7 linked regions of the Homo sapiens genome follow. The protein of the gene in region 6 interacts with the protein of the main gene of each other region in a pairwise test. Each region holds a gene or a part of one and is shown on either strand. Other genes may lie near its edges.

The links.
Region 1: the proteins of ITSN2 (region 6) and DLGAP1 interact in a two-hybrid assay, tested with the Homo sapiens proteins (one large-scale study listed by BioGRID).
Region 2: the proteins of ITSN2 (region 6) and MBNL1 interact in a two-hybrid assay, tested with the Homo sapiens proteins (one large-scale study listed by BioGRID).
Region 3: the proteins of ITSN2 (region 6) and CCDC88C interact in a two-hybrid assay, tested with the Homo sapiens proteins (one large-scale study listed by BioGRID).
Region 4: the proteins of ITSN2 (region 6) and SYN1 interact in a two-hybrid assay, tested with the Homo sapiens proteins (one large-scale study listed by BioGRID).
Region 5: the proteins of ITSN2 (region 6) and AHDC1 interact in a two-hybrid assay, tested with the Homo sapiens proteins (one large-scale study listed by BioGRID).
Region 7: the proteins of ITSN2 (region 6) and PIK3AP1 interact in a two-hybrid assay, tested with the Homo sapiens proteins (one large-scale study listed by BioGRID).

What each region holds. Positions count from the first base shown.
Region 1 is NC_000018.10:3,878,308-3,881,807, forward strand, and holds part of DLGAP1 (disks large-associated protein 1), read right to left. Parts: intron 1,834-3,500; 5' UTR 1,762-1,833; coding exon 805-1,761; intron 101-804; exon of another isoform or gene 25-100; intron 1-24. UniProt on the Homo sapiens protein: Part of the postsynaptic scaffold in neuronal cells.
Region 2 is NC_000003.12:152,463,605-152,466,280, reverse strand, and holds the end of MBNL1 (muscleblind-like protein 1), read right to left. Parts: 3' UTR 501-2,676; downstream 1-500. UniProt on the Homo sapiens protein: Mediates pre-mRNA alternative splicing regulation. Acts either as activator or repressor of splicing on specific pre-mRNA targets. Inhibits cardiac troponin-T (TNNT2) pre-mRNA exon inclusion but induces insulin receptor (IR) pre-mRNA exon inclusion in muscle.
Region 3 is NC_000014.9:91,313,321-91,316,820, forward strand, and holds part of CCDC88C (protein Daple), read right to left. Parts: intron 2,468-3,500; coding exon 2,330-2,467; intron 831-2,329; coding exon 1-830. UniProt on the Homo sapiens protein: Required for activation of guanine nucleotide-binding proteins (G-proteins) during non-canonical Wnt signaling. Binds to ligand-activated Wnt receptor FZD7, displacing DVL1 from the FZD7 receptor and leading to inhibition of canonical Wnt signaling.
Region 4 is NC_000023.11:47,606,358-47,609,857, reverse strand, and holds part of SYN1 (synapsin-1), read left to right. Parts: intron 1-2,659; coding exon 2,660-2,717; intron 2,718-2,821; coding exon 2,822-2,913; intron 2,914-3,500. UniProt on the Homo sapiens protein: Neuronal phosphoprotein that coats synaptic vesicles, and binds to the cytoskeleton. Acts as a regulator of synaptic vesicles trafficking, involved in the control of neurotransmitter release at the pre-synaptic terminal.
Region 5 is NC_000001.11:27,545,145-27,548,644, forward strand, and holds part of AHDC1 (transcription factor Gibbin), read right to left. Parts: coding exon 2,160-3,500; 3' UTR 2,117-2,159; intron 178-2,116; exon of another isoform or gene 112-177; intron 1-111. UniProt on the Homo sapiens protein: Transcription factor required for the proper patterning of the epidermis, which plays a key role in early epithelial morphogenesis. Directly binds promoter and enhancer regions and acts by maintaining local enhancer-promoter chromatin architecture.
Region 6 is NC_000002.12:24,207,037-24,210,536, reverse strand, and holds part of ITSN2 (intersectin-2), read left to right. Parts: intron 1-503; coding exon 504-719; intron 720-1,315; coding exon 1,316-1,437; intron 1,438-2,217; coding exon 2,218-2,300; intron 2,301-3,500.
Region 7 is NC_000010.11:96,703,515-96,707,014, reverse strand, and holds part of PIK3AP1 (phosphoinositide 3-kinase adapter protein 1), read left to right. Parts: intron 1-3,500. UniProt on the Homo sapiens protein: Signaling adapter that contributes to B-cell development by linking B-cell receptor (BCR) signaling to the phosphoinositide 3-kinase (PI3K)-Akt signaling pathway.

The sequences.
Region 1 (3,500 bases), on a different chromosome or scaffold from region 6:
TCTCTCTCCTATATTTTTATCCAGGTAACATCTGGTTTCAGTGAACTGGAGGAAAACACAAGGAGACAGTGGCAGGGGAAGAGCAGCCTACCGTGGCTCTGTAAGTGTGTGGGATTTACATGCTGACACTAATTGTATTTTACTTCTCTAATCCTTCCTCCTTTTCCTCCTCCTCTCTGTTGTCCTGGGTGTCTGCAGCTGTGCTTGTCAGGTCCCCAAACTGGCTAGCTCCCCACCTCCTCAGGGCACAGGGCGTCTTCCTGATTTGCTGTGCCCTCGATGTGGAAGCTCAGGTCGGGGTGTAGTTACTGATGGTTATGATGATGACCATCGCAGTATTCTAACATAGCTTCAGGCAGGATTTCACAATGAAAACCACCCCACAAAACCCTGAATAGATCTAATGAAACTCTTTCCAAAATTCAAACGATCGTCACGTATTTTTGAATTAAAGAAAGGTGGACTTCTTTTAAAATTCTCTGTAGACTTCCCTTTCCTCTCTTTCCCATCCTATGATCCCTCAGACAAAAGAGGAAGCCCATAATAACTGGTTGCCTTTCCATAGGCGTGCTTTTCAAAGCACTTGGATATCTAGTGTCTTAAGATAACCCGGTGAGGTCGGTAGCATTTGTTTCTTTTCATTTTCCCTACAGGAGCAATTCGGCACAGAGATGCCGAATAATTTGCACAGGTTCCTATCTTAATAGACAATTCAGAGTAGTGCCAAGACTAGAACCAGGAGAAATGCCCACACAAGCATGCCAGGTACTACTTCTAAGCCTCCATCATTGACAGAAATGGTACCTGCAGGTACTGGCAGGAGCGTTCTTGCTGACACGACTCGGACTTCACCATGGCCTGGTCCATGTTCACCGAGGCCTTCTGGTAAACCTCCCGGGCCCGGCTCACGGTGAGCGTGGAGGACCAGGCGCTCTTCTTCAGCAGCGGGGTGTCCAGGCTGACCGGCAGGTTGGCGCAGGTGGAGCACTTGACGTCGTTGTTGCTCCGGGAGGCCTTCACCGCCTGCTCGCTGATGGTGTTGTAGGCCTCCAGGAAGTACTGTGAGGCCGAGCGGTCGGGGCACCTGCCCATGGTCATCACGCCCGAGGGGGCGTGGTAGATGCACATGTCACCATCCAGGTTGTCGTCCGAGCTCCACCAGCCCGGGGAGGTGCTGGGCCGGGCCTTGGGCTCCGCGCGCCGCTCCTTGCTCTTGCTGCGTTTGCCATAGCGCGCCGCCTGCGCCTCGTCAGGGCTGGCCTTGCCCCCGTTGACGCTGCCCTTGGACGGCCCCTCCAGGGAGTGCGACTTGGTGAAGAGCTTCTGGACCGAGTGCACCAGGTGGCGGATGCGGCCGGGGCTGTCGCTGCGGTGCTCCACGGCCGTGCGCTTGTACTGCAGGGTGTGATAGCCATCGCGGCTGAGTGGCAGCTGCCGCTCGAACTGGTCCAGCAGGTTGGCGGGGATGCGGTTCGCCTTGGTGGCCAGGGTGCGGGGCACCAGGGCACACTCGTCCTTCAGCTCTTGCTGCGAGGTGTAGTGCCTGCGGGGGAAGGTGCTGCTGGCCAGCGGGTCGCTGAAGGGGCCCACGCACTCAGCCTGGAAGGAGTTCCGCTGGGTGTAGTATGGGTGGTCTGCGGGGTGGTGCTCCACTGGGCTCAGCAGGTAGGGCTTGCGGTCGGAGTGGTGCGACAGCGAGTCACAGGCCGAGTCGCAGGTGACCCCGTGGTGATGGCTGCGGCTGCCTGATAGCCCTTTCATGGCGGACCGGAAGCAGCCGCCAGGGTCATGGACACCCGGAAGTCAGGCTCCAGACCCGTCTTGGGCAGGGATCTGGGGGAATGAAGAAAAGGGCAAAGTCGTTAACATTTCTCTTGGAAATTAGGTATTGCACTTTACAGGGTCTTGCTCTGTTGCCCAGGCTAGAGTGCACAGGCGCCATCTCTGCTTCCTGCAGCCTCCACATCCTGGGCTCAAGCCATCCTTCCACACCAGCCTCCCGAGTAGCTAGGACTACAGGCAGGCCCCACCACGCTTGGCTAATTTTTTGTAGAGAGGAGGTCTCACTATATTGCCCAGGCTTGGTCTCGAACTCCTGGGCTCAAGCTGTCCTCCCACTTTGGCCTCCCTTAAGTGCTGGGATTACAGGCGTGAGCAACCCTGCAGGCCTGGTATTGATCTCTTGAGGGTGCCATCTGCGACCGTGTTTTTTTGGCAGAACTTAATCAGTGTCCCCTAAAACAGCTTGAACGCATTATTGGAAGAGCTCTGTCACCTCTGTGGGGCAGGAAAGCTGACTCCAAAGCCTGTAGGGAGAGAAGGTGGAGGTAAAGCTAGAAAACTAGAAAAAGGAGGCCGGGCGCGGTGGCTCACGCCTGTAATCCCAGCACTTTGGGGGGCCAAGGAGGGCGGATCACCTGAGGTCAGGAGTTTGAGACCAGCCTGGCCAACATGGTGAAACCCTGTCTCTACTAAAAATACAAAAATTAGCTGGGCGTGGTGGTGGGTGCCTGTAATCCCAGCTATTCGGGAGGCTGAGGCAGGAGAATTGCTTGAACCTGGGAGGCGGAGCTTGCAGTGAGCAGAGATGGCACCACTGCACTCCAGCCTGGGGGACAGAGCCAGACTCCATCTCAGAAAAAAAAAAAAAAAAAAAAAAAGAAAAAGAAAACTAGGAAAAGAAAACTATATTTAAAAAAAAACCAAATTGTTTTTAAATTATTTGAAACAATAACTCTCCTTCCCTCTATGACCCCAATAACTGGATGTATCGTTCTCTTGCTTCTTGGGTCTTATTCTTTTTTTTCTTTTTCTTTTCTTTTTCTTTTTTTTGTGAGATGGAGTTTTTGCTCTGTTGCCCAGGCTGCAGTGCAATGGCACGATCTCGGCTCACTGCAACCTCTCTCTCCCGGGTTCAAGTGATTCCCCTGCCCCAGCCTTCAGAGTAGCTGGGATTACAGGTGCCTGCCACCATGGCTGGCTAATTTTTGTATTTATGAGGTTTCACCATGTTGGTCAGGCTAGTCTCTACATGTTAATTGTTAAAGATAGAACTGGAGAGGGGCTCAGTTCCTCTAGGAAACCTCTGCTGGCTCTCCTAGCAGAGAGAATTAGTTCCTCTCTTGTGTTTCCACCACATCTGAAACTCACTCCCCAGAACCTACAGAGTTGCTTGCTTCAGGATCTCTCTTCCGGCTTATGTTCCTTGCCTCCCAGTCTATTAGTCTCATTATGTACCCCGACCTAGTGTCGATCCAGCCATGTAAGCACACAGTAATAGCACTCCATAAGTGTGAATGAAAATGTGAGTTAAAAAACAAGATGAGCCGGGCGCGGTGGCTCACTCCTGTAATCCCAGCACTTTGGGAGGCCGAGGCAGGTGGATCACGAGGTCAGGAGATCGAGACCATCCTGGCTAACACGGTGAAACCCCGTCTCTTCTAAAAATACAAAAAATTAGCCAGGCATGGTGGCAGGCGCCTGTAGTCCCAGCTACTCGG
Region 2 (2,676 bases), on a different chromosome or scaffold from region 6:
CACACACCCCTCAGGAGTAATATCATGGCCTGCCTCATAGATCATATGCATAATTTCTTTCATCCCTCTGAATACAGTGCCATCACCTCTCTTGGATTGCCTGATTTCCAGTCCTAATCAGCTGACGCAGCAGTCAGGCAAATAAGATTTCTTTAATAAAAGATAGATAGTGATCTATAATGTATAATAATTTTTTTCTTACCGTTTTTTGCCCTGACACTTAAAACTATTTCAATCAGCGCTTAAAGTGTCAGACAGGGGAAGGCAAGAATTTCAGAAAACATTGGGCACAGGAGGGCAATATATGCTGATTTAGATTCTCCCTCTCAGTGTCAAAGGATAATTAGTGAGAAAGACAACAAATGCCTTCCTCGCAGTTGCAATCAGTTAAAACCAGGTAACAAATTTATACATCAATATGTTTGTAAAGATAGATACATATGCATGAATACATGAAACACGCAAAAATAATTTAGTATTCAATCTCAGATACACGAATATACTTAAGAAAGAGAAGTTTTATTAGGGCAATTTCACTTTATTTTTCCATACAGCAAAGTCAACTACTGCAGTAATAATAAAATAAGCATAAAACAAATTGCAGCCCAAGACAAAATACATAATTTTAAGCAACTACAAGCAGAAAGTAAGTTGTGATTACATAATAGTAAAACCAAGCACATTTGTCCTTTCAGCAGATGAAAGTGGTAGGGTTGCTGATAAGTGCAACATTTTTAACCAGCTGGAGTGAAGGCTGGATACACTAATTCTTTTAAACAAGTGCCCATTATCACATTTTGCATTTTTGAGTGCTTCTGAGTTGAAAATTAAAACCATGAAATTTGAACTGCGTTTTATTTTTCACCTGCTGAAAGAACAGGATCCTACAGCAATTAAAAAACAATCACATAACAACTATAGCTACAGTGTGCTGTTTGGTTTGCCTGTTTATGATTTAAATTTTGTGAAAGTCAATACTTGTTTTGAAGATTTTTTTGTGAACAATAAACCACTGAAATTGGCAGAAACTGATCTGAATAATATATGTTCTTAGTATAGTTCTTTCTCTCTTTTTTTGTTGAAGTTTTAAACATGCAGTAGTTTTGAAAAATGTAAGGAATATCTGATCCATGATTTCACCTTAATGGTAGAAGTACCTGCTATTTTTGGTAATGATCTTCAGGCAGATTTGGCCCCATGGAGTTTTTGTCAGTCATGAGGGTTTGAAAGGATGGCGTATCTTTCCAGCTGAAAAAATCCTGGCAAACTACAAGCTGTCCACAAGAAAGCAAAGCAACATGTTTGAAGGGGTATGGAGTGCTAACTCTGTGCCACTTTTGCAAGCAATTTTGCTCAGTCTGTCATTGTATTAGCCTTAACAAAACTCCTTGTAATTATAGACGTTTTTATTCAAAATAAGATCTTACTATTATACAGGTTTCTCTCTTTTGACTATATACAGAAGTGCAAAAAGTCAACCTTCTCCCTAGACGTTCCAACATGCTAAATTGCAGCATAATCAACCCTCAAGAGTTTGCACACACGCTATAATTTTCATTACGTAAACTTTGAGTATTTGGATTATCAACAAAAAGTCCCTTGTTCTATTTATTGATTATGCAGCTTATTTATAACAAGGCCTGATACTCAGGGATTTCAAAAATATTAAACAATATTTTAACATTTGAAATGGATACAGTAGAAAATAAATTTTATTCTAATATCTAGGATCTAGATCTTCTTATAATAACTAATTACAAACAAAATAAATCATCAAAATATTACTCAATTGTCTGCCAGGATTGTTGCGATAGCAACAACTTAACTTCTTACTTAGCAATGATTATATATTTATAAGATATCCATATAAAAGATCTTTGTTCTTTTAATGAAAACTAGACAAGAACTAACAATGACTGACATTCTTACACTGTAATATTAAATCAGTAAAATATAAATCATTTAGTTAACAATACGAATATTCATGTGACACTACATGTAATTCAAAACTGAGTATGTTATGAAGGAAAAACTACTTTTTTTTGTATTTTGAAAAATTCATTGGTAAAATCTAATAAAACAAGTCTATAAACTGAAATGGTATTCAATTGTTAATAGAAAATGAAAATCTAATAAATGTAGGAAATGAAAAACTACATTTTAACAAGAAAAATAAGTAATATTCTATAATGTAACTAACTACAATAACATGTGAAGTCACCATTACTTTCTTAACACGATTGAAATTACATTGGTATGGGTTCCAACCCGTAATGTAATAATCTAAGGCTTTAATAGATGTACAGTACAATCAGTAAAATCAACACATCAGTCTTATATTAGAAAGCATCTCTCTCAAGCATAAAAACTTGCAGTAAACTTGGAAGTATGGAAAGTTCTATAACTGAACTTTCACTTCTCCCATTCCATACTATAACTACCAGTGACCTGGCCCCTACTTCAGCAATTTTTAGAACTGCTGAACAGAGCAAAAATATCCTTTACTAGCTGCAACATCCAAACCTCAAAAAAAGGAATTCCTTTGGATGATTCCATTCTTAAAAACTGAATGCACATCTATTTTTTTTTTAATTTTGTAAAAGGCTTTCTAAGGCTATAAGCAGTTAATCTGAACAAAACAAAACAAAACAAAAATCACATATAAAATTCACCCAT
Region 3 (3,500 bases), on a different chromosome or scaffold from region 6:
TTCTCGAGCTGGGCCACCTCCTGCTCCAGGGCCTTCCTGTCCTTCTCGGCCCCCTCCAACTGTGCATTGGCCAGCCGGAGGGCCTCCAGGTCCCGCCGCAGCGCCTGGCGCTCAGCCTCCAGCTCGCCCAGCTCACTCTCCAAGGTCTGCGTCTTGTGGCTGCTGCTCTCCAGGCTCTGCTGCAGCCGGAGGTTCTCAGCGCTCACGCTCTGGTAGCTGAGCTCCAGGCGCTCTGACTTCTTGCCCAGCGCCTTGAGCAGATCCACGTTCTTCCTCAGCTCCTCCTTCTCACGCTCCAGCTGCTGGTTCTCCCTCTCCATCTGTGCCAGCTTGGTGCTGGTGAAGCGCATGGTCTCCACCAGCCTGCGCAGCTCCAGGTTCTCTGCGTCCAGCTGCTTGTTGTCACGCTCCAGGCCCTCAAGCTGCAGGGACACGTTCTGCAAGGTGTCCAGAGACTTCCTCAGAGTCCGGTTCTCCAGCTGCAGGCCCTGGCTCTCATGCTCCAGGGCCTCGACTTTCTCGGTGGCTGTCTCCAGGGAGGTCACCTTCCTGGCCAGCCTCCCGTTCTCCTCCTGGAGTCGCTGTAGCTCCCTCTCCAGCTTCTCTGCCCGCTCCCCCTTCTCCTTGGCCTGCTCCAAGTCCCTGTGCAGCTGCCGCTTCTCAAACTCCAACTGGCTGAGCTTGCCATTGGCCTCCGTCACCGTCTGGTGGAGGGCTTTGTTCTCCTTCTCCACGTCTTTCATGCGGGCCTCACTGCTGACCTGCGACCTCTCCCGCAGCGACCACATGGCTCGGTTGAGGTGGTCCTTTTCCTGCTCAAGGTCCTTGATCTACGGGAAAACACAACAGGCACAACCCAGGCTGCTGCAGGAACCTATTTCAGTGACATGGGCTCACACTGGGGATGGGAGAGAGAAGGCCTTGAACGGCTGTCCTACCTGTGCTCAGACACTGCCTGTGCGTTCCCCAGAGGCTTGACAGACACAGGTGAGTGGGCACAGACACCACCACTTAGATGGTTCAAGTCAGAATACACTCAGAGCAGCCAGGATGATTTTAAAATGTAAATACATCTCTCTCCCTCACTTAAGTTTCAGCGGTTTCTCTTGGTCTCTGGTAGCCGGGCCCTGCCCACCTCTGCAGCCTCTGCTTACACTACTCTCCACCTCCTGCTCACTGCTCCTAGCCCAGCTGACTGTGAACACTTTGCACATGCTGATCCCTCTGCCTGGAGTACTTTCCTCTGGCTATCAGCCTCACTGGCTCTTTCTTATACTTGGGGTCAGTTCCCCAAAACATCCTGGCATGATGATTCTAAGGTAGCCGTGTATCCCAGTATTCTCTCCCTCAGCACCCTATTCTCTCAGTAGCACCCTCCTGAGATCATCTTGCCTGTCACCTGGAAGTGTGCCTTCCTGGCTGTGAGCAACATCTGGGCAGGGCCCTGTCCGTCTGTTTACCATGCACCATTCTAACCATCTTCTCTGGGCTTTTTATTCCTCTACTACAGATGCCAAAAAGCTAAAATACTTGGGGCCAGTGATGGTGGCTCATGCCTGTAATCCCAACACTTTGGGAAGCTAAGACGGGAGGATCACTTGAGCCCAGGAGTTCGAGACCGGCCTGGGCAACACTGTGAGATCCCATCTCTATTAAACAAAAGAAAACATAAACAAAAACAAAAAACTAAAATACTTGGTGCCCTGGCATTCTTTGCAGGCAGAGGTAGCCACACGTTAGTTCTGGCCAACGTGACGTCTACGGAGCATCCTTGGGAGGGTTTCCCTGTGATGCTAAGCCCTCCACCTTTCTCCTGCTTGTACCTTAGGGATGTGCAGCAGCCACTGCTAAGGCTGGCAGAGCTGTAGGCAAGAGGCCTGGTTCCTGATGGCATCCCTGAGCCACTACATCAGCCCTGGACTGCCCGCCGTGTGAGGCAAATAAAACCACACGGATTTGCCAGGGTTCTCAGCTGGGGCACTAAGAACATTTGCAGATGGAGTGTTCCTGACCTGCGCACTGCAGAATATGTAGCAGCATCCTTGGCCTCCACCCACTCCATGCCAGGAGCACCACCCCCTCTCTTCCCCGGGGTCACGACAATCAAAAATGTCTTGAGACATTGCCAAATGTCCCTTGGGAGGCAAAATTCACCCCACCTTTTCCCACCGCCAGTTGGGAAATTGAGAATTGCTGATTTAAGCTGTGGCTAAGCTAGGTAACGGATAATCCATGCATCCACAATACAGTACCAGGAATGGCTGTAATCCCGGCTCTCCGTCTTGCAGGCAGGGGTTCTAGGAGAGGCGTTAGTGGTGGAGGCACCTACCTGCCTGGCTTTGTCAGCCTTCAGGGTCTCCATGTCACTCTGCAGCTGCTCCTTCTCTCTGATCAGCTCCTCACTGAGGGTCTCCAGATCTTGGTTGCTCTGCTTTTCTCTCTCCAGCTGGGTTTGTAACTTTTCAATCTGCAGAACCAAAAGACCCAGCCCAGTGCAGACATCAGTCCTACGAAGTGAACCATGATTTAAAACAAAACAGAAACCACCCCAACAGAATGCACTGATGGGTCTTTTCTCAAGGGAAGACCTCCTGACATCATTCTGTAGCAACTCCCCACACCACAGCTGTCACTCTTAAGACAGAAAGTCACCAGGAAGCAAACCATCACCATCCCCCCAGCGTCCCTCTGCCCCATCCTTGCTGCCATGTGCTCCACCGCCTGAGGCCGCCACCGCTGGGTGCCCTCGGGGGTTTCACACGCACCCAGCTTCCTGTCCTCCTGGAGACTTCCTGCCTCAGTTGGTGATGTCACCTGGCTGCTCAAGTGGCCCTCTGTTATATCTCTTCCTCTTTCACCTCCATGGAAATGTGTCACCAAGCCCTGTCCTTCTTACCCCTTCCACACTTCCACCATCTCCCTCACAGGCCAGGCCACATTTTGTCTGGCCTGGACAGCCACCCAGTGATCTCCTTGACATCAAGGTCTTATGCCAGAACCCACCTGTTCGCAGCCCTCCTAAACATGAACTACCTAAACAGAGGTCCTTATGCTCCCCGTTGCACACGAGTGCCCGCCTTGCTGAAATGCAGATTCTGACTCAACCTTTTTTTTTTTTTGAGATGGAGTTTTGCTCTTGTCGCCCAGGATGGAGTACAATGGCATGATCTTGGCTCACTGCAACCTCCGCCTCCCAGATTCAAGCAATTTTCCTGCCTCAGCCTCCTGAGTAACTAGGACTACAGAAGCCTGCCACCACGCCCATCTAATTTTTGTATTTTTAGTAGAGACGGGATTTCACTGTGTTGGCCAGGCTGGTCTCACAGGTGATCCGCCTGCCTCGGTCTCCCAAAGTGCTGGGGTTAACAGGCATGAGCCACTGTGCCCGGCCAACCCTTGCATTTCTGATTGCTGTTGCTTCTGGTCTAAAGGTGTGATTTCCTGGGTCCTACCTACCCCTGATGGACCCCTCATCTTTCTCATTCTGTGGTTCTTTGTCC
Region 4 (3,500 bases), on a different chromosome or scaffold from region 6:
CACCTGGGAGAAGAAATTCCACACAGCATCTTTTCCTACTACTGACACCTCCAGTGTCATAGGATCTGCTGGATCATATGGCCTAAGTCACATCCTGCTTGCACCACAGCCCGGACCTGCTGCAGAGCACTTTGCGTTGCTACAGCATATCGGAGGCTATCTATGCCCCACCTCCCACTACTGATGGGTCCTCACTGCCATCTGGCTGCTGGGTAACCCAGCTCCAGAATTGCATTAGACCACCCTTGTAGTTTGACTTCCATGGCCCACTGTTTTAGGTTGGGTTCCCTGGAAAAAGACTTTGAGGTGGAGATTTGCATGCAGGAGGCTTACTGGAGTGTGCCATTGGGATCAACACTTGTGAGGAGGGTTGGGTTGAGCAGAGGAAGAGGCTGGCTCAAGATGTAGTTGCCTTAGGGGCCTCCGCTGCTCTTAGGGGGAGCCCTGGGGCTGGGAGGGTCCTTCAGAGTCAGCCCAGATTGAGGCAAGGAGGCTGGCCTTTCTTTCCCTTCATAGACCAGACCATGGGGATGCCCTCATGAAGTAGGTGTAACCTTGGACAAGGCAGTTCCCTGTGACAAGACAATTCCCAGTGGGGACACAGCCATGAGCTGTCAGTAGCTGCCATTCAAGGTACATTGTCCCTGAAGAGGAGGCCTGAGCAGACCACCACAGTATCCAACTACACTTATGGTCAGAAAAGTTTTAGAAACAGTGATACACCCTCATCATCCCCACTCATCAGTTTATAGATGAAAAATGTGCAGGGCTGAGAGAGATTCTCTCTCAACACTTCTGAGGGGATAGTGTCAGCGATGGTGTGTGTGTGTGTGTGTGTGTGTGTGTGTGTGTCAGAGAGAGAGCAAGGAAAAAGAAGTAGCTGTACTTGGGGTCTCTTGCATATGTCAGTCAAGTCACCAGGGTCCATTTGTGCCGTGTGTGTGTGTGTGTGTGTGTGTGTGTGTGTGTGTCTGTCCAAGACCCTGATTGTATGTGTGTCAGTGACCAGTAGCCCTGAAAGTGTCTCTCCCCCTCATCCCCCTTCCATGATAAACCTGATTGAGGATGAGCTTCCATCCCTGGAGCAAGCAGCCTGTTGGCTAGAAATCTTGAGCCTGGGGGAGGAGGCCACCGGAAACCAAGCCCAGCTGGGGACGGGCCCGGGGACAATGACATAGCAGTTCGTGATGTTCCTACTGCTGCTCCCACTCCCCCTCCCTCCTGTTGCTCCCTCTCCTCCTCAGCTGCATTCCTCCCTGCCCCCCATCATTGCCAGCTACACTGGCTTCTCTAGAGCCACCCAGCCTGCACCACTCAATCCACTCCTCCTTATCGGATGCAGCTGCCCACCTATGGCCATTGTGTTTCTCACAGCACACAACCACACATGGTGAATGTGCTCCTCCTTGCGAAAGGGCCAGAGAGCAGAGAGATGCTTCAGGCCACACAGCCAGACACAGGCACTGACATATACACAGGCACTAAAAAATACACAAAAACAGGCACGCTTCAGAGAAATGTAGTTTCTTTCTCTCCTTCCTTCCTTCCTTCCCCTTCCTTCCTTCCCCTTCCTTCCTTCCTTCCTTCCTTCCTTCCTTCCTTCCTTCCTTCCTTCCTTCCTTCCTTCCTTCCTTTCTCTTTATTTCTTTCTCTTTTTTGCCTAGGTCTTGCTCTGTTCCCCAAGCTGGAGTGCAGTGGTGCAATCACGGCTCACTACAGCCTCGACCTCCTGGGCTCAAGCCATTCTCCTGCCTCAGCCTCCCCAGTAGCTGGGACTACAGGCATGCACCACTATGCCTGGCTAGTTTTTGTTTTTTGGGTTTTTTGGAGATGGAGTCTCGCTCTTGTTGCCCAGGCTGGAGTGTAATAGCACCATTTTGGCTCACTGCAACTTCCGCCTCCTGGGTCCAAGTGATTCTCCTGCCTCAGCCTCCCAAGTAGCTGGGAATACAGGCATGCACCACTACACCTGGCTAATTTTGTATTTTAGTAGAGAAGGGGTTTCACCATGTTGGTCAGGCTGGTCTCGAACTCTTGACCTCAGGTGATCCACCCGCCTTGGCCTCTCAAAGTTGTGGGATTATAGACGTGAGCCACAGCCCTCGGCTTTTGTTTTTTTTTTTTTTTTTTCAATTTTTTTTGTAGAGATGGGGGTCTCTCTATATTGTCCAGGGTGGTCTCCAACCCTTGGCCTGAAGCAATCCTCCTACCTCCAGCCTCCCAAAGTGCTGAGATTACAGGCGTAAGCCACCGTACCTGGCCAGATAGGTGTTTTCTAAGGTTCTTTGCTGTTTACCGGTCTCCATGCAATTTCAAAGTATGTTCTAATTTACATAGTGCTGCTAATTTTGTGAAGTTTTTTTAAAAAATTTACAATGACAATGTGATGAGCAGACTAAATTTTGGGAAATACCTGCTCTCTGCAGTGTAAGGCCACATTTTACAGTTTGCAATGTCCTTTAATATTTTTGCAACTCCATGAGGATTACAACAGACATTATTCACAAAGCACTCTTGATTTTTTCAAAATATTTCAATAATTATAAGGCACTTTGTGGTTTCTTTAGTAGCATTGAAGGGGCAAAAGGGTCAAGGGCCTGTGTTTTGTCTTCCCTTCTGAGATTTCATCATTGACAGATGTGTTGTTTTTCCTCTCCAGGGCAAAATACTTCAAAGGGAAAAAGATCCATGGAGAAATTGACATTAAAGTAGAACAGGTAAGTTGGGACATTTGGACCTGGGGGTCAGTTGTCCATACTGCAAACTGAGTGGCCATTTTTGTGTGATGTAGGTGAATCACCAGTTTTTTTCTCCTTCCCAGGCCGAATTCTCTGATCTCAACCTTGTGGCCCATGCCAATGGTGGATTCTCTGTGGATATGGAAGTTCTTCGGAATGGGGTGAAGGTCGTGCGGTGAGTATAAGAAGGGTACCTTGGTGTTATGAGCAAGGCATAAGAACTCTCCCTTAGAGCTGGGGGAAAGTTCCTACCTCCCCACCCATCCTTCTGTGGGCAAGAACTTAGGCATGGAATGTGGGGAGACAACTTTTCTTCAGAAAAAGAGCCAGGGACCCCAGGATGCCACAAGTCAGACTTTAAAAAAAAATATATATATATATATATATATTTCAGACAGGGTCTTGCTCTGTCTCCCAGGCTGGAGTGCACTGGCACAATCATGGCTCTCTGCAGCTGCAACCTCTCAGGCTCAAGTGATCCTCCCACCTCAGCCTCCCAAGTAGCTGAGACTACAGGTGCGCACCACCATGCCTAGCTAATTTTTATGTTTTTTGTAGAGATGGGGGGGGTCCTCACTATGTTGCCCAGGTTTGTCTCAAACTTCTGGGCTCAAACAATCTACCTGCCTTGTCCTCTCAAAGTGCTGGGATTACAGGCATGAGCCGCCACACCCAGCCTTCAATTATTAATTAAATAAACATTTGCTAGACATCTGCTGCATGCCAGATGCTGCTCTCAGGACTTCATATTCAATAAATATT
Region 5 (3,500 bases), on a different chromosome or scaffold from region 6:
TTCTAGCTTTTTTCTCTTGTACAGTGCTTCCCACAGCTGGAATCAACACATGCTTAATGCCACTGTTTGCTGTCTTTCCCTCTAAATGGGAAGCCCCCTGAGGACCAGTACCTCATTTGTGGTGTTCACTGTGGTGCCCCCAATGCCTGGCTTCTAGTGGGTGCTGGACAGATGTCTCTAGAACAATGGAATGCATTGGTTTGAGGACAGCGCAGTTAACTCACAGCCCTGAGTGGGGAGCAGGGCCAGAATGTGGGGCTGGATGGCATCCCAGTTCCTCCTGCGTTCAGGCCTCACTGGGTGGTTCCATTATGTACTTCACTGAGCTGTGACCTGCCCAAACACCCAGCCCCCACACCCGTCCATTTTCCCACCCAGAGCCTGGGAGGAACGGTTTTTGGATTATTTCACATTTCTGGATTATCCATGAGACATCTCCCCGCCAGTGAGAAGGATCAAGAGTTTGACATTTTAAACCCTAAGCAGTTTCTCCCTGGCCTGCTTCAGATCTGAGGCTCTGCTGGTTGCAATGAGACGCATGGGGAATGGAAGGCCATTTTAATCTTGGCCTGGCTTCATCAGGAAGGAAAAGATGCTGCCAAAAAAAAAAAAAAAGTTTGCTTCATTGTCTCTGCCATGCAGAGCTGCGAGAGCCTAAGGGATTATCAAAGTAAATTTCCTTGAAAAGATGGGGAAACTGAGGCCCAGAGAGGGGCAAAAGCTTGGTCAAGGGCATGTGGGAAGTTGGTGGCCAATCTGGGAATGGTCCTCCCGGAGGCCTCCGGACTCCTGCATGCTGCCCTTTGTCACCTTCAGGCACCAGGGGAGCTGGGGTCTGGCAGAGAGGGGGCAACAAGTTTCCACTGACATGACTTCAGGACCCTGAGTCACCCTGGCCTTGAATGGCCTCCCAGAGCACGGATGGGACTTTCCAGGAGCCCAGCTACTCCTCCAGGAAGAGAAACTCCCAGGAAGCTTCAGTGGCAGCAGAGGTGAAGGGTGAGGGACGCAGGCATGCCCCCAGTCTGCCCCATCACCAACCACCACATCTGGGCCAATTTTGTGACAGATCTGTTGTCCAAAAGTGGGGCCAGTGGCGGCTGTATTTCGGGAGCAGGCTGTTCTTCAAGAAGATGGCTCCTTCAACCTTGTTCCCTTTGATCATTTTGGGGGCATTTTCTGTCTTTTATTTTCCTTTTTTAAAACACCAAATCTTGAGAATACTAAAACTGACTCCAACTAATGAGGTCACAGTACCTGATAAAAACAGTATCAAAACATTTAACACTCTTTAACTGAACTCTCAGAAAAGTCTTTGGCTTCAGGAAAGGGACTGGCTTTTCTAGGGTCAAAATACCTTTGCCTGAAGATAGCCTCACTGGCTGCAGGTTTGCAGGGACAGTGGGACCCCAGCACCCCTTCTCCACTTCTGGGTCCCTACCCCACATGCTCCTGGCCACACCTAGCCTATCTCAGACCAAAGATGTTGGAAAATAGCCTTTGGGGGTACCTTGGGAGGCCAAGAGAGGACATTTTGGACCATCCTGTGAAGCCCTTGCAGAGTGTGTGACCACGCCACACTGGCCACTCTTGGCCTGGCCCTCACCAGGCTGCCTCTTAGAATCAGTGAAGCTCCCAGGGAAATGGGGGTGCCAGCAGGGCTGGTCCTCTGGATAGGCCCTGGGTAGACGACCGTCCAACCTGCTTCTCCCTTCACCTGTCTCACACAGGGCGATACAAATGCCCACCCTTATCAGCGTATTTCCTGGGAAATACTCACTTCCTGCCCAAGACATAGCATGAACAAATAATTGAAAGCTTAATAAACCAAACTACAGGGCCCCATCCAGTGTGTAGTCCTCTGGCCATTTCAATTCACAAGACCCCCCCGAACGTTCAAGCCCCCTGCTGAGTTCCCAGCCCAAGCACCCCATCTCCTCCTGAGACTGTCCGCAACAGCGAATCCTGAATCCCTACACCCTGCTCTCAGTCCCCAGCCTTGCCCTTAAATCCTGCATTTGCTTCCTGCACTCCATACCTCTGTCCTTGCCTAAGCTCTGATGTCCTCTTCCCACCCCCAGGCCTCTGCCCACTGCGCCCACATCCCCAGACTCACCCAGGAACAAAACCTCGCGGTCCAGTCGGCACTTCAGTTGGCACTACAGGGATGTGACGGTGAATGTGTCCTCGGGGTGAGGTTCCGCCATGGGCCCCAGGAAGCCGCTCTTGGGGCCCCCACCCAGGCCAGGATGCGCCTGGGGCATAAAGCCTGGGTACCTGTAGGCGGTGTCCTGCAGGGGCAGCAGCGAGTCCCTCGGCACGGGGGACAGGGTCAAGTCACTAAGGAGTGGGCAGCCATAGCCAGCAGCGGCTGCAGCAGGGCCACGGGGTGGGCCAGGGGGCCGGGCCATTTCCAGTGGCTCCTTGTCGGCCTTGGGCGTGGCTGGTGGGCTAGCCAGGTGAGGGGCACTGAGGCACGCGGCCTCCGTCCTGCCCAGGAAGTCAGCCAGCAGCCCTGTACCCACCTTGCCTTCATAGGGCGGGCTGCGGGCAGCTGAGCCTGGAGGGTACCAATAGGCTGTGCCCTTGCAGCTGGGGGAATCGTAGTGGGGCTGGCCCAGCGGCAGGTCCCGGCAGCTCAGGTGGGCCTGGGCTGCAGCTGCGTGGCCCAGGCTGGCCCCCTGGAGTCCATGCTTGAGGGGCTCGCAGGCAGCCAGCTTTGTGGGCGGTGGCCGCAGCTCTTCCTTGAAGCCCAGTGTAGGCGAGCAGGTGGGCGAGTATGCCTTCTGCAGGCCGGCGTCAAACACCGTGGGTGGGTGGGCCAGCGGTGGGAAATGCTTGCCATCAAGCTCGGGAGCACCCAGGCTGGGCGAGTCGCAGTGGAAGCCTTGGCCAAAGGTGCCATCGGAAGGCGTGGACGGGTTCATGGAGTAGGGTCCTATGAAGTCACAGGGGTCTCGCTCTCCCACGCCGAAGGCCCTCGACTGTGAGGGCAGTGGTGACATGCTGCTGTCCCCGCTATAGTAGTCCAGGCCGAGGTCAGGACTGTCCTGGAACAGTGGGTTGACTGGCTGTGGCTTGGGGATGAACTTGGCTTTGGCCGCTGCGCCACCCCGCTCCTTCTTGGCTGAGCAGGCCCCACCGCCCCGTCCACCTCGCGGCTGCCGGGGCCCAGTGCTCCGTTTGGATGGGTAGCCTGAGGCAGCGGCAGAGGCGGATGTCGGGAAGCCCAGATGTGAGGCCTCGAACAGGTCCACCTTCTTCCGCCGTCCACGGCCCGGCTTGGAGCTACTCTGAAAGAGGACACTCTGGTTCCAGTTGTAGCCGGGGGCAGATGATGCCTCGTTCCAGTCCATCATCAGTTTCTCCAGGCTGGACAGGCTCGACTGGCCCTCACTACTTGAGGCCTCGCTGTTGGCACGCCGAAACCCCCCGCCACCAACCGGCTGATTGAACTGGGTGCTGTCGGAGGATGACTCAGAGAAGGTCTCCGACACAGC
Region 6 (3,500 bases):
GGGTTGGAGCGATTCTCTGGCCTCCATCTCCCAAGTAGCTGGGACTACAGGCATCTGCTACGATGCCCAGCTAATTTTCGTATTTTTAGTAGAGCTGGGGTTTCACCATGTTGGCCAGGCTGGTCTTGAACTCCTGGCGTCAAGTGATCCTCCCGCCTCTGTCTCCCAACAGTGCTGGGATTGCAGGCATGAAGGGCATTCCTTCTTGGATTGTCATCTTCCTTTCTCCTAAGGAGAGAACACTGGGATTTTTTGTTTTGAGTTCTTTGAATTCAGCTGGTAGAATCAGTGTTCTGTGGCTAGAAGTAATGATTTTCACTGGGCCAGTTTGGACTCTGAAGAGTAATGTATTTAAGGATCTTTCATGCAAAGTGAATGATTCTAGCCACATTCCCACCTAGAAAACTCCACCACAGTATCCTCAGGCCCAGGGCACTGGCCTCTCAGGGGCACTGGATGGTTTGTGCCGGGATTTAAAAAGTGAAATTTTCTTTCTCTTTAAGCAACTTATTTTCAACTCTCTCACCAACTGCCTGGGGCCCCGGAAGCTCTTACACAGTGGGAAATTATACAAGACCAAGAGCAACAAGGAACTGCACGGATTCCTCTTCAATGACTTCCTGCTTCTTACCTACATGGTCAAGCAGTTTGCTGTTTCCTCTGGCTCTGAGAAACTTTTCAGCTCGAAGTCCAATGCTCAATTCAAAATGTATAAAACGGTGAGTATCACGCGTCTGGGGGTAGCATCAGGGGCCTAATGAGGTGTTGCCTCTATCTTAAGGCCTTCCTGGCAGACCCTGAGCTGGCCTTACGGGACCCTCCTCACCTGGTTCCAGATCGCTCGTGCTTCCTTTGCTGCTTCCCACGGGAAGGGCCCCATGCAGCTGGGCACTCCCCACCTGCCACAGGCCATCAGCCAGATTCCAGCTGAGATTCTGGCTTCCTCCTGGCCAGCGTGACACCTGGGCTCACCACTGTGTGCATTCAGCATTGGGTCTCTGTAAGCCGAGCCCCAGCACAGCACCAGCGTTGCTAGCAGAGAGCCTTTTGCACCAGCCGTCATGGGCGCTTGGAGCTCCTGTCCCCACCCAGTCCCAACACCTGACCCACCTCGATAATGACTTTTCCAGAAATGGAGGCTTCATTGTTCTTACAAATGGAGGTTTCATTTGTTCTGTGTAGAAGACCTTAGACGCTAGACCCCTTTCTCCTTCTCAACAAGGCTCTTCAGAACAAACAGAACTCTCTCTGGACATAGGCGGGTGGAGTGTTCTAGCCCATCTCACAGCCTGTGTTTTGGCCCTAATTCTTTCAGCCCATTTTCCTGAATGAAGTCTTGGTGAAACTGCCCACAGACCCTTCCAGCGATGAGCCTGTCTTCCACATTTCCCACATTGATCGGGTCTACACCCTCCGAACAGACAACATTAATGAGAGGTCAGTCCTGACCATGTGTGGCCTGCCTTGAACTCTGGGAGAAGGCCTGGACGTCTCCCTCTGCCATAAACCCATCTCCAGCCGTGCTTAAGCCCCACTAATTCTGTATCCTGAACCTCTCTTAACACATCCCCTCTGCTCCAGTCCCATGGTAGGCCTTGGTCACTGCAGCTGCCTCCTAACATGCTTCCCGGCTTCTAGTCTCTCCCCACACCACTCAGCAGCCTTCCCAAATGGCAGATCAGCACCTGAGGCCCTGCTACAGTCCCTGCAGGGGCTGCCCGCAGGCGACAGCCCACTGTGCTTTGCTGGTTTCCGAGGCCTCCTTGGGCCACAGGCCTCAGCCCTCGTCCCTCCACCTGCAGACTTTCGCCCCTCAGGCGCCCTTGTGTGGGTGCCATCCCCGCTGTTCCCAGCTTCCTTCAGGCTGCAGCTCCAACAGTGCCTCCGCGGCGCCAACCCGGGGGGTGCTGCTGCTCCTCTGTGTGCGCTAGAACCCCTCGTGACAGGTATCATCCGTGGGGCCAATGCATCATCTGTCTCCAGGTCCCAGCGCCTTGCGAGTGCCTGGCATTTTGTGGTCAGCCAAGAAGGGTCACTACCAGCTCTCATACTCCATTAGCATAAGCATCTTTCAGTTGACTAATATCAGGTCTTTGATAGGAAACTTGTGAAAGTTGAGGTTAGCAAAAGACTGAAGAACATGTGCAGAGCTCTGGGGCTCCACGCTGACCTGTGAGGGTGGGATGCGGCCAACGGCTGCCCCTGCTTCTCCCGTAGGACCGCCTGGGTGCAGAAGATCAAGGCGGCGTCTGAGCAGTACATCGACACCGAGAAGAAGAAGCGTGAGAAAGCTTACCAAGGTATCAGGGTGCCCGGAGGGTGGGACGCAGCCCCCAGGGGCCCTAGGAATGCCGGCCACTGCTCCTGCAGTCAGGCTGATGATATAGGGACGGGTCTGAAAGACCAGACCTGCTGCGGGATCAGACCAGAGAGCCCTCCCCTCTTGAAGCTACTACTGCAAACCTCCCTGGGGCTCCTGCCCACACAGACACGGGCTGGCAGTGCCAGCTCCGGGACCTCCCTCTCTGCACCACCTCTATCCCCCCCACTCCACTGCACCTTCTCCACTCCTTTCTCTCCATGACTCACCTCACCTCTGCTTGGGCTGTGGTGCTCCATTACATGCCACACCTGTGGTCTGTCTCCCTTCAGCTCCTGAGCAGCCACTGCTCCTCCTCACCCTCCTCTAGGGCCTGCCATCCACCCTCTCCCTTTGCAGCCAGGGGGCCTAGACCCTAAGTCTGCCCTCTCCCCATCCTTCTGCCCCTGCCTCCTCCCCCTTCTCACTTCACCAGACTTCAGTCCACGTCCTGTCCCCACCAGTGACACCAGTGGCCTAGTTAGTGGCTCAGCTCACTTTCCCTGCCCCAGCTCCCTGCACTGATGGCAGTCACTGAGGCGCTGCCTTCCCTCTGGACCCCATGGCCGCCTTCCCAGTTCTTCTTCCACCCTTGCCCAGGCCTCTCCCCGACCTCTGTAGCGCTCTCCCTCGGGGACCCCACCGACCCCCAGCTTCAGGGTCAGGCTAGCCACACTCTCCCAAGCCCGCGCCTCTGAACAGCACCCTCCAGAGAACCACCTGCCCCGCTGCTCCCACATCACACATCGGCTTTTCCCAAGGGACCACCAGCCTCCTTCCAGCAGCAGCTCCTCCTGGGACCCTCTGTGGACAGTAGTGTGGTCCCTGGCCACCCAGGCCCCTCCCTGGCACCTCACACCTGGTCAGCTGCACTGCAGTCCTCCTCCCTCGCCACTTTCCCATCGCCCTTTCCTGTCCCCGTATCACAGGCCCCCGATCTCCCACCCAGGCTGCAGCACAAGGCTCTCTTTCCTCTCTGCCACCCATCCTCTTCATTTCTGGAGTATTCTTTTTTCCAGAGCTGCTCTTATACCTCTTCCTGCTGAAGTATCTTCCCTATTGCCTCCCAAATTAACGACACATTTCTTACCCCACACTCAGGGCCCATCCCCACTACTACCTGCCACCCAGCCCCATCCCT
Region 7 (3,500 bases), on a different chromosome or scaffold from region 6:
TTGCAGTTCAGAATCAATGGATATAGGGACAAATGGAATTGTAAGAAAGAGAAGAGGAGGAAGGAAGCCTTATAGCCTCAATATAACTTTCTTATCTGGTATTAGGTTTGTGAATTTGGGGATTCAAGATCTCTGTCGGTGCTAGGATGACTTGGGTTTGCTTTTTGGGTATTCCATAGCCATGGCCCTTGGTTGGCCTTGACTCTGAGGCCATATTCCTGATTTTTTTTGCTGGACAAGCTTTCTTAACAAACCTGATACTCAGAGTCTGGCAGTGTAGAAAAAAGAGCATTGACCAGGGTTAGGGACACTGCATTACCCGGCTCTGCTGCTAACCAGATGCCTAGTACTGAGCAAGTCATTTTGCCTCTTTGAGTTCCAGTTTCCTTTTCTGTAAGTGGCAGATTTAGACTTGATCTAAGACACTTCCCAAGGCTAAAAATCTGTGATTCACCTAGGCCAGAAAATCTTAAATATTTTTGAAGTATGACCTTCTTGCCACATTTCATACCTGCTTTGACTCCCAGGAAGCTTAGGGCTAGAACAGTATCTAAAGACAGTACTCTCCCTACACTACATTTCTGGGATAATTGTGTCCTTAGGTACATTCCCTATAACTTGTGATAACCCATCTTTTTAAAAAATACTCCTCTTGCATACATGAGGTTTTCCTAAGGTACCTCAAAATAAAAGCAAAAGCTAATATTTTCATATACGTTACTACACCAGCTGCCCAGTCCCATGAGAAATAAGTACATGAAACTTGTTTCTTTGACTTTCTCTGTTAAAAAAAAGAATCCCAATAAGAAATTGGCTGGGCATGGCCGGGAGCGGTGGCTCACGCCTGTAATCCCAGCCCTTTGGGAGGCCGAGGCGGGCGGATCACGAGGTCAGGAGTTTGAGACCATCCTGGCTAACACGGTGAAACCCTGTCTCTACTAAAAATACAAAAAATTAGTCGGGCGAGGTGGCGGGCGCCTGTAGTCCCAGCTACTCGGGAGGCTGAGGCAGGAGAATGGCGTGAACCTGGGAGGCGGAGCTTGCAGTGAGCCGAGATGGCACCACTGCACTCCAGCCTGAGTGACAGATCAAGACTCCATCTCAAAAAAAAAAAAAAAAAAAAAAAAAAACAACTGGCTGGGCATAGTGGCTTATGCCTGTAATCCCAGCACTTTGGGAGGCTGGAGCAGAAGGATTTCTGCTTTGAAGTTTGAGACCTGTCTGGACAACATGGCAAAACCCTGTCTCTACAAAAAATACAAAAATTAGCTGGGCATGGTGGTGTGTACCTGTTGTCCTAGCTACTTGGGAGGCTGAGGTGGGAGGATCACCTGAGCCTTGGAGGTTGAGGCTGCAGTGAGCTGTGACTGAGCCACTGCATTCCAGCCTGGGGATCAACAGAGTGACACCCTGTCTCAAAAAAAAAAAAAAAAAAGAAATGCAATGGAAAATTGATAATGGGGATGAATTAATAGTAGAGACAATAATTGTGGAGTTATTGATTGTAGGGCTATTGAAACTACAGGGAGACAAATTTTAGGAAAAACTTCCTAATTATTAGAGCTGTGTGAAGGTGGAATGGGTTGCCTTTGAAGGTGGTAAGTGCCACATCTCCAGGAGTAAGAGAGTAGATACTGCAGACGTGCTGTAAAGGGATTTAGCTTTGGGGCCAGGGTTGGGCCATGTGACCTTTACAGCCTTTTGATCATAACATTCCCTTACAAGAAGTTCCCCTTTTCACCAGGAACACATTTCTCTTCTGAATTCAATTTTCCTCCTTCACCTGGTATACCTGAGGTTTTTGACTCCCAACTGAAGAAATACTGGTCATGTTCCTACTCAGACCCCAGCAGTAAATAGCATGAAAAATACCTCACTTTATAATTTATGTAACCCTTTAAAATGGTAAAAGTCCCAGAATATTTACATGGCTATATGTCTATTTTTCTTAACTTTGAGATACCTTTTGATAAAAAGGACTATTTAATGAGATATTCACTAAGCCCATTTAAAATTTAGGCTAAATTTTAGACCATGTAAAGTTTAAAGTAAAGCTTAAAGATCAAAGAGAGTGGAGTGGGTAATAGAGTAGAGGAGGTTATTTTATTCTTGAAACTTAGATTACAGGTAGTCAATTATACTTTCTTTTGCTGCTATGCTAGCTAAACAATGCTTCTCAAATTTTAATGTGCACAGAAGGACCTGGGGATCTTGTAAATATGCATATACTGACTCCTTGGGTGGGGCCAAGATCCTGCATTTCTTTTTTTTTCTTTTTTCTTTTTTTTTTCTTTTTGAGATAGAGTCTCGCTCTGTCACCCAGGCTGGAATACAGTGGCGCAATCTCGGCTCACTGCTACCTCTGCCTCCCTGGGTTCGAGCAATTCTCCTGCCTCAGCCTCCCAAGTAGATGGAATTACAGGCATGCACCACCATGCCTGGCTGATTTTTGTATTTTTAGTAGTGATGGGGTTTCACCATGTTGGCCAGGCTGGTCTTGAACTCCTGACCTCAAGTGATCTGCCTGCCTCAGCCTCACAAAGTGTTGGGATTACAGGCGTGAGCCACCGCACCCAGCCAGATTCTGCATTTCTAACAAGCTCACAGGTGATGCTGATGCTGCTGGTCCAGGTACCACTGAGTACAAACAAGGGGTCTAAGCCACCTTTCTGTTGTCAGGTCAATGGTCATGTACCTCTGTCGCATGGGAAGTATTTTCTCTAATCTCCACTTCTCCGGAAATGGAGGCACCATCACATCAGGGCAGCTCCTGGACACCCATCAGTTAGATATAAAATTAGGCCAGTATTTGGTGCTTAGGCCATCAGACTTCAGGGTAGAGCTCCTGCGTTCTCTTCCTTTGCCCCTGCTCATAGATTCGGTGCGTTCACTCTGGCAGTTTTTAATCTTTCAGGTTTCTAGATGTTGGGATGGGGTGCTACTGAGATCACAATCTTTACTCTTTCTTCATTTAATAAGCCCCTTGATCAAAATTACTACTAAAATATGTTTTGGAGGTTTTATTTCCCACCCCACTCTCCAAATTTGTCAGCCACCTTAAAATTAAGCAGATGTTTTAATTGGAGTCTTCAGTGTGTTGGATCAGCCAGTTTATTTTCCAAGTTCTTCATCTGTAAAATGATGGGGTTGGACCAGATAATTTGGAAGGTTTCTTTCAGCCTCCAGCACTGTAATATACCATTATAAGTTTTCTAAGAAGATGGCAAATTCCCGAGAACCTTTTTAACTGATTCAGTTTAGTTCCAAAACGTTTGCAGTGATATATACCTGTGCATAGAAGACTGGACTATTGATCTGACTTTTTGGACTTGTTGGAAGATTATTTTAAATTAAGGAAGTGAGAAAACCCCAGGTACAGCACAGAAATTATTTCCTCTTTTTACTGGGGCTCTATTCTTTGCTTCAAATCTCAATGGAATATAAAAATAGATTCTGTTAGACTGTGTGGGAAAGGACTCTGTGGGTGATATTGAGTGTTT